Regions from separate parts of the Homo sapiens genome. Here regions 1 and 2 are each linked to region 3. Evidence: fine-mapped expression QTL. A gene starts in region 3. Each other region holds a variant in brackets. All regions are shown on one strand. Distances are from middle to middle.

The links. PIP is the estimated chance that this variant, and not a neighbour inherited with it, causes the effect. A credible set is the group of variants that fine-mapping cannot tell apart.
Region 1: its variant is the best candidate, but not a certain one, in a credible set for the expression of DLG1 in whole blood (INTERVAL, PIP 0.87).
Region 2: its variant is the best candidate, but not a certain one, in a credible set for the expression of DLG1 in whole blood (TOPMed, PIP 0.50).

What each region holds. Positions count from the first base shown.
Region 1 is chr3:197,249,832-197,252,591 of GRCh38, reverse strand. All of the region lies in intron 4 of DLG1 (discs large MAGUK scaffold protein 1), which reads left to right. Among named protein-coding and RNA genes, the nearest start is that of MIR4797, 43 kb to the left of the region's middle. The variant G/TTG (reference allele first, on the strand shown) is at 1,612.
Region 2 is chr3:197,475,225-197,477,984 of GRCh38, reverse strand. No RefSeq gene overlaps it. Among named protein-coding and RNA genes, the nearest start is that of LINC02012, 33 kb to the left of the region's middle. The variant G/A (reference allele first, on the strand shown) is at 1,137.
Region 3 is chr3:197,297,444-197,300,203 of GRCh38, reverse strand. It overlaps DLG1 (discs large MAGUK scaffold protein 1), which reads left to right and starts at 1,592. Exons shown (of 25, transcript NM_001366207.1): 1 at 1,592-1,668. It overlaps DLG1-AS1 (DLG1 antisense RNA 1), which reads right to left and starts at 1,957. Exons shown (of 3, transcript NR_038289.1): 1 at 1,594-1,957; 2 at 1,112-1,226. RefSeq lists silencers at 1,416-1,545, 2,036-2,665.

The DNA of each region.
Region 1 (2,760 bases), 48 kb after region 3:
ATCAGACAATAACTCCTCATTCCCTCAGCCATCATTCTACTTTGTTTCTCTGATTTTAACTACCGTAAGTACCACATAAAAGTATAGTCAGATGGTATTTGTCTTCTTGTGACTGGCTTGGTTCACTCAGCATCATGTCCTCAAGTTTCAGCCATGTTATAGTATATGTCAAAATTTCCTACCCTTTTAAAGCTGAATAATATTCTATTATATGTCTATACCACATTTTTCGTATCCATTATTTCGTTAATGGATACTTTGTTTCCATATTTTAGCTATTGTGAATAATATTGCTATGAAAACAGTATAATCTCTTTGAGACACTGCTTTTAAAATCCAAAGTAAAAGCAGTAAAAGAAGAGGTTTATAAAGTAGAAAAAGAAATGGGTAGAAGCATCTTTAAATCTCCTCCCTTTCATATTCCTTTTATTCCTACCTCCAGCTTGTCTCGATGATAGACCTGTACTTAAACCATCCACCACCTCTCATAAGGAGAGACAACTAGCACACTAGTCATAAAAAGCAAGGAACAAGAACTATAAAAGAGGGAAAAGAGAAAGAATGATTCAGAAAAGACTGTTCTGTACAGCCAGGAACCTACATATTTTACTGTTTCATAAAAATTATCAAAAAGATCTTCTAACAATTAGTGAATCTTACCATGTACTGGGCATTGTTTCCCACACTCGACAGGTCTATTGAGAAATGTCTGTTCAGATCATTTGCCCATTTTAAATGTGCCCATTTTAAAATATGATTATTTGTTTTTTTGCTATTAAGTTGTTTAAGCTCTTAATATATCCTGGTTATTAATCCCTTGTCAGACGGGTAGTTTGGAAATATTTTCTCCCATTCTGTGAGTTTTCTCTTCACTTTGTTGATTGTGTTTTTTTGCTGTGCAGAAGCTTTTTAGCTTGATGTAATCTCATTTGTCTTTTTTAGCTTTGGTTGCCTGTGGTTTTGAGGTCTTAACCTCAAAAAATCATTCATTCATTCATTCTTATGCATATGGATATCCAGTGTTCCCAGCATCATTTATTAAAGAGACTGTCCTTTCCCCATTATATGTTCTTGGCATCTTTGTTGAAGATGAGTTGGCTATAAATGCATGAATTTATACCTGGATTCTTTTTTCTTTTCTGTGTGTCTGTTTTTATTCCAGTACCGTGCTTATTTGGTTACTGTAGCTTTGTAGTAAATTTGAAGTCAAGTAGCGTGATGCCTCCAGCTTTGTTCTTTGCCTTGACCATTTGGGGTCTTTTGTGGTTCCATATAATTTTTAGGGTTTTTTTTCTATTTCTTTTTCTGTGAAGAATGTCATTGGTAATTTGATAGGCATTGCCTAGAGTCTGTATTTTATTTATTTGTTTTTTTGTTTGTTTTTGTAGAGACTGGGTTTCACCATGTTGTCCAGGCTGTAGTCAAGCAGTCCACCCACCTCGGCCTCCCAAATGCTGGGGTTACAGGCATGAGCCACCGTGCCTGTCCCTGAATCTGTAGATTACTTTGTTTAGTATTGTTATTTTTACAGTATTCCTCCACTTCATGAGCATGGAATAGCTTTCCATTTTGGGGGTCCTATTCAATTTCCTTTTTTTTTTTTTTTTTTTT[G/TTG]ATGGAGTCTTGCTCTGTTGCCCAGGCTGGAGTGCAGTGGCATGATCTTGGCTCACTGCAACCTTTACCTCCCAGGTTCTCTTCACAGCCTCCTGAGTAGTTGGGATTACAGGCACCTGCCACTGCGCCTGGCTAATGTTTGTATTTTTGGTAGAGACAGGGTTTCACTATGTTGTCCAGGCTGGTCTTGATCTCCTGACTTCAAGTGATCTGCCACCTCAGCCTCCCAAAGTGCTGGAATGACACGTGTGAGTTCATTTTCTTTAGTTAGTGTTTTATAGTTTTCCTGTATAGATCTTTAACTTCTTTGGTTCAATTGATTCCCATACACTTTATATTCTTTGTAGCTATTATAAATGTGATTGCTTTTTAAATTTCTTTCTTCTCTTTTTCTTTTTCTTTTTTTTTTTTTGAGACGGAGTCTCACTCTGTCGCCAGGGCTGGAGTGCAGTGGCATGATCTCGGCTCACTGCAACCTCTGTCTTGCAGGTTCAACTGATTCCCCTGCCTCAGCCTCCTGAGTAGCTGGGATTACAGGTGCCCACCATGACGCCCAGCTAATTTTTTGTATTTTTAGTAGACCTGGGGTTTCACAATGTTGGCCAGGCTGGTCTCGAACTCCTGACCTCGTGATTCACCTGCCTCGGCCTCCCAAAGTGCTGGGATTACAGGCATGAGCCGCCGTGCCCGGTGCTTTTTAAATTTCTTTTCAGATTGTTCACTGTTGGTATATATAATGCTATTGATTTTTCATGTTGATTTTGGATCCTGCAGCTTTACTAAGCATATGTATCAGTTCTTACAGTTTTTTTTGGTGAAGTCTTTAGGTTTTTCTAGGTATGAGATCATGCCATCTGTAAACAAGGCTAATTTGACTTCTTCCTTTTCAATTTTGGTGCCCTTTATTTCTTTGTTTTACTTCACTGCTTTTCCAGTACTATATGAAATAAAAGCGGTGAAAGTAGGCATTTTTGTCTTGGTCCAGACCTTAGAGGAAAGACCTTCAATTTTTCCCCATTCAGTATGATGTTAGCTGTGGGTTTATTATATATGGCCCTTTTAATTTTGAGCTATGTTTCATCTGTAACAGTTTGTTACCGGTTTTTATCACAAAGGTATATTGAATTTTATCAAGTGCTTTTTTGGCAT
Region 2 (2,760 bases), 180 kb before region 3:
TTAAGCAAATAAAAATACGGGATGGGCCAGGCACAGTGGCTCACGCCTGTAATTGCAGCACTTTGGGAGGCTGAGATGGGAGGATTGCTTGAGTCCAGGAGTTTGAGACCAGCCTGGGCAATATAGTGAGACTTTGTCTCTACAAAAAATAAACAAAATTAGCCAGGTATGGTAGTGCAAACCTGTAGTCCCAGCTACTCAGGAGACTAAGGTGGGAGGATCACTTGAGCCTGGGAGGTCGGGGCTATAGTGAAACATTATTGCACCACTGCACTCCAGACTGGGTGACAGAGGGAGACCCTGTCTCAAAAACAAACAAACAAACAAACAAAAAACAGGATATCCACTTAAAATGAATTTCAGATAAATGATGAATAATTTTTTGTATGAGTATGTCCCAAATATTGCATGGGATAAACGTATACTACTTTCATTGTTTACCCGAAATTCAAATTTATCTGGGTGTCTTCTATTTCATCCGGCAGCTCTCCAGGATGCCTGGGCAGCATGAAGCAGAAGACTCGGCCACTTGAATCCCCAATATGCCTCACCCATGTCTCCAGGAGACAGCCCTGCCTTCAGGGGAGGGTCTCCTTGCACTTCAAGCTCTTTGGATTAAGAAATGGTTTATAGGCTGGACGCAGTGGCTCACGCCTGTAATCCCAGCACTTTGGGAGGCCAAGGTGGGTGGATCACTTGAGGTCAGGAGTTCAAGACCAGCCTGGCCAACATGGTGAAACCCCGTCTCTACTAAAAATACAAAAAGTATCTGGGCATGGTAGTGGGCACCTGTAGTCCCAGCTACTCAGGAGGCTGAGGCAGGAGAATCACTTAAACCTGCGAGGTGGAGGTTCAGTGAGCCAAGATCGTGCAACTGCACTCCAGCCTGGGTGACAGACGAGGCTCTGTCTCAAAAAAAAAAAAAAAAAAAAAAAAGTCTATCTTTAATAACTCAACACATATAGACTGTCTCAAAAAAAAAAAAAAAGAGATGGTATATCTTTTATAAGTCAACACATATATTTGATGGCTGCCCATGAGCAGAAGAGCATTGTCTAAATGTGTAAGACAATAGGTCTGGCCACCAGAGACTTGAACCTCAGAGAGGTTTAATGGAAGCTTTAATGGAAGGAGAG[G/A]ACACCAAACTCACAGGAAACAACAAGATAGACGGTTAGGGTGAGGAGGGTGTTCGCTGGGCGGGGAGGACGAGGATAAAACCAGGAGATGAGGAACCAGGGGCTCCTCATCCCACAGCACATCCCCCTCCCCACTGACCGGGCACTCGGCACTCAGCCCTGCTCTTTGTCTTGTCCTTACACAGTTCTTCCCTGCAAGGTCCACACCCTGGAGCCAGTAATGGGCTTTGGATGCAGGCTTTTCAGTGAGGGAGTGGGAAGCAGTGAGGAGAATGACCTGAGACGGAGCCCCCTGGGAGAGCGGCAGATTTCACACTCTGTGCTGTGACTTGTCATTAGCAGCCCCAGAAGTGCACACAAAGGAGAAGAAAGGAAAATCGTCTGCTGACCCTGCCATGTTCTGAATTCAGTAGACACTTGTCTGGGCCCGTAGAGTCTCCCTTCTCCCCTTCTTTCCACCCTTCCTGCCTTTCTTCTTTATTTCCTGACCAGCTACCACGAGCAGGGCCTTTTACCTGACTGACTAAGGGAAATTGGCCAGAGTCCCACTCGTAGGAGGCAGGGAAATTAGGAAGGAAAAGGACTGAGGATGGAGAGATCATGTCCAATTCGAGAACCCAGGAAGGCTTCCTGGAGGAGCTAGCATTTTGTTCTGAGTCTTGAATACATAGTATTTGGACATGTAGAGACAGGGGAGAAGGAGGGCACACCCACACAGAGGAAGAGGGAGGGCAAGGAACAGGGCTGGGGAGGCCCAGAACACACAAAAGTATTGGTGGTCAGAATGAGTGACAACCCCCCTGAGGTTGGCTTCAGGATTCAAACCAGGGGTCTGAGGTAAAGGGAAGTGAGGTTTGCATCGTCCTGGGATGCTCAGAGAAACATTCTGGCCACTTGTTTACCTCTTTTTCTCTTTTCCTTCTGAAAAACAAGGAAATTCAGTAGACACTTGTCTGGGCCTTTTTCTTCTGAAAAAGAAGGAAAAGAGCACATGTTCTCTGTTGGAGGCTCATTTATAATTCAGGCAACCTCCTTCAGAGGGAGCAGGTGTTTCTCTGGGATGAAACACCTTGGGAAACAGAATGTACAAGTGGAAAAAAAAGCATGTCACAGCACAGCCAGGCAGAGAAAAGCTTGGGTCGAGGCAAGGGCAGAAGGAAGAGGAGGCGTGAGAAGACAAGGCAGCAAAAGACAGCAGCAATCCCTTCCCACCCAACATGCTCACGCTCTCCCTCTCTCTTTTCCTCTCTCTGCAAATCTGGATTGACATTACCCCCTTCAACCCCAGTGTCCATAATTCCATCATTAGAATGCCTTTCTTTGAGTCTTAATAGCTCCTCCTTCAAGACTACCCCCACCCCAACCTTTTTTTTTTTTCTTTTGAGACTGAGTCTTGCTCTGTCGCCCAGGCTGGAGTGCAGTGGCACAGCCTCGGCTCACTGCAACCTCCGCCTCCCAGGTTCAAGCAATTCTCCTGCCTCAGCCTCCCGAGTAGCTGGAATCACAGGTACCCACCACCACACCTGGCTAGTTTTTGTATTTTTAGTAGAGACAAAGTTTCCATGTTGGCCAGGCTGGTCTCAAACTCCTGACCTCAGGTGATCCACCCGCCTCAGCCTCCCAA
Region 3 (2,760 bases):
CTTCCTCCTTTTTGCTTTTAGGGGAAGGCTAGGATGACATTGAGAACTCACACAAATTTTGTTTTTGACTCCTCAGTGTCCCCTGGGAAAAGGTGCATTGGCCTTTGTGTACTTGCTACAAGGCTGTGTATCCTTGAGAGCAGGACTCGGATCTTATTTATTTCTATCCCCGTTTCCTAGCAAGTGAACATATATGAACAATAAATGTTATCAAGGGAGAGGGCAAATTTCCCTCCCTGTTTCTTCTGAATTCTGAAGAGATTCCATTGTTAGAATGGTTTCTTACTGCAACCATCCCATTCACAGTCCATCAGCGAAGTCTTGAGAGTATGATGCCTGTCATGAGCCACTTTCACTACTAAATAAATTCCGTCCCTCTGTTAAGTTCCCGGCTGTTAGGACACCTCTGCCTTCAGCACCGTTTGACCCTTCTATCCCATTTTCTCTATGCAATGTTGCTTTAACTGTTGTTCAAGATCCCAGGATGCTTGATCCGGGAAAGCACAGAGGTCTGCTGCCAACATACCAACATACCTCTCTGTCAAGTTGTCCAAAATCACAAGAGAAAGAGCCCTGGACTAGAGCTAGGAGACCTGAGTTCTCGGCTGCTCTGTTACTGATTAGCGTCTATGTCCTTGGACAAGTTGCTTCCCTTTTTCCGGACCTCGGTTCCTTGTCCTAGATAGGTTCTAAAGTCGGTGGGTCCTTACAGTAAGTTAGGATTCTAAGGTGCAATCCAAAAGTAAAACCAGTGGTCAGTATACCTCTGAGTAGCTGTTAAGGTTACAATACGAGGTTCCTCGGCCTTCCCTTTGGTAGCCAATGGATACGGCCTCAGTCAGAGGCCGTCAGGTTTACTGGGAAGAGCCTTCCGGTTTTGAAAGACAGGATCTCCGGGTTTCCAGTTCTGTCACTCACTCGGGGTAACTTTGGGCAAATTCTCTCTGGACCTCCTAATAGGGAGGTCCTCGTCACCCCGAGGAAGTTCGAAGACGTGGGCAGTGACTTGGAAAGCTTCCCGAGATTCCCCTTCTATAACCTGGGTGGCTCAGACCGGGAGCGGGGTCCCAGCCGGCCGGTAATTCCGCCCGGAGGTGCGCACGAAACAAACCTGCAGCGCTGGCCGAGGGCGGCTCAGCTTCGGAGGGCGCGACTCCGGGTGAGTTCTTAAAGGGACCGTCAGAGTTTGGGTAACACCTGCGATGCTGACCGGGCGGGGACGCAGGCTTGAGGGAAATGAATGAATGAATGAATGAGCGAATGAATGAACAAACCTTCTCTGCCCACCCTTAAGTATACCATACTCGGAATTAATCAGTTAGGCTTAAAAATCTTGTACTATAACCCTCAAACTCTTGCCAAGTTAACCAGTGTCTCTATTTCATATGTCCTTCTGTAATGAAACCCCTCCCCCCAAGCCTATTACTAAGGGACGAAGAGTAACTTAACAATCAGCCTGGAGTGGAAGGCAATGCAGAGTTGGCACCCCTCCCCGAACTCCTCCCTCTCCCTCTCCCAGGCCCCGCCCTCCCCGCCCCCTGGGAGGTGCAGTTGGCTCCTCCTTAAGGCGGCTTTTCCCCGGTGGGGATCTACCCCCGGGGTCGCCAGGCGCTGTCTCTGCCGCGGAGTTGGAAACGGCACTGCTGAGTGAGGTTGAGGGGTGTCTCGGTATGTGCGCCTTGGATCTGGTGTAGGCGAGGTCACGCCTCTCTTCAGACAGCCCGAGCCTTCCCGGCCTGGCGCGTTTAGTTCGGAACTGCGGGACGCGCCGGTGGGCTAGGGCAAGGTAAAGGCGGGCTCCTCCAGGGCCACCCCGGGCCACCTGTGGAGTCCGAGTGTTAACTCCTTTGTTCTCAGAGCCACTTCAGCGGCCGCCCTTTTAAGCGAAGAGGTTCCCTTAGGATGCTCCCCGGGTACCCCTTCCGTTCCCCTGCCCTCCCCCGACCCGCCTCCCCCTTCCAACCCGAAGGTAGCAGCGCGGGGAGCCCGGGGCTCGGCGCGAGCCGCCTCCTCACTTCCCATTGGCTGAGAGCGCCGGGAAAGCGGTCACGTGGGAGCGCGGCAGGCCAGCTCGGGGGCCGCCATCTTGGCGGAAAGTTTCGGGGGAGAGCGGTTGGGGGCGCGGAAGGAGGCGAGGTTCCGGGGGTGGGGCGTGCGGCAGCAACTGGGCGAGCGGGCCGGGGGGCCGCGGCGAGCGAGGAGGCGGCGCGGCCGAGAAGGAGGACGAGGCCGCGGGGGTGCGGCGGCCCAGGGGAGCTCCTCCCCCGTCCCTTCGCCCCCTCCGCTCGGCTCCGCGGGCCCCGGGCGGGGCGGGGGTACGTGGAGCGGGGCCGGGCTGGGGAGCTGCTCCGAGTCTGGCCGGGGCGCACCCCAGTTCCGAGCGCACGCCGCTCACCGGAACTTTGTGGCGGCGCCGCAGGTGTGGGGGCCCGCGGAGGTGTGCATGCGGGGCGCGAGGGCGTCGCGGAGAGCGGCCGCTGCCCTGTCCGGCCCCCGCTGGAGCAGCCCGGAGGCAGCGAGCAAGGAGAAAGGCAAGCGAGAGGAGGGGGCCCGAGCAGGGCGGGCGGCCAGTCCCGCTGGTCCCCTCTCAGCGCTCTGCGGCCGCTGCTGGCTCAGGGGCCAAGGGTCGGAGCGCTTCACCCGCCCGTACCCAGTAGCAGGTGGGGAGTGTGGATACTTGTGCGGGGGAAGAGGCGGCCTCAGGTCTAGGCTCTTTGGGGAGGGGACGCTTTCGAGGAGAGTTTGGAAGCCGACTTCTGT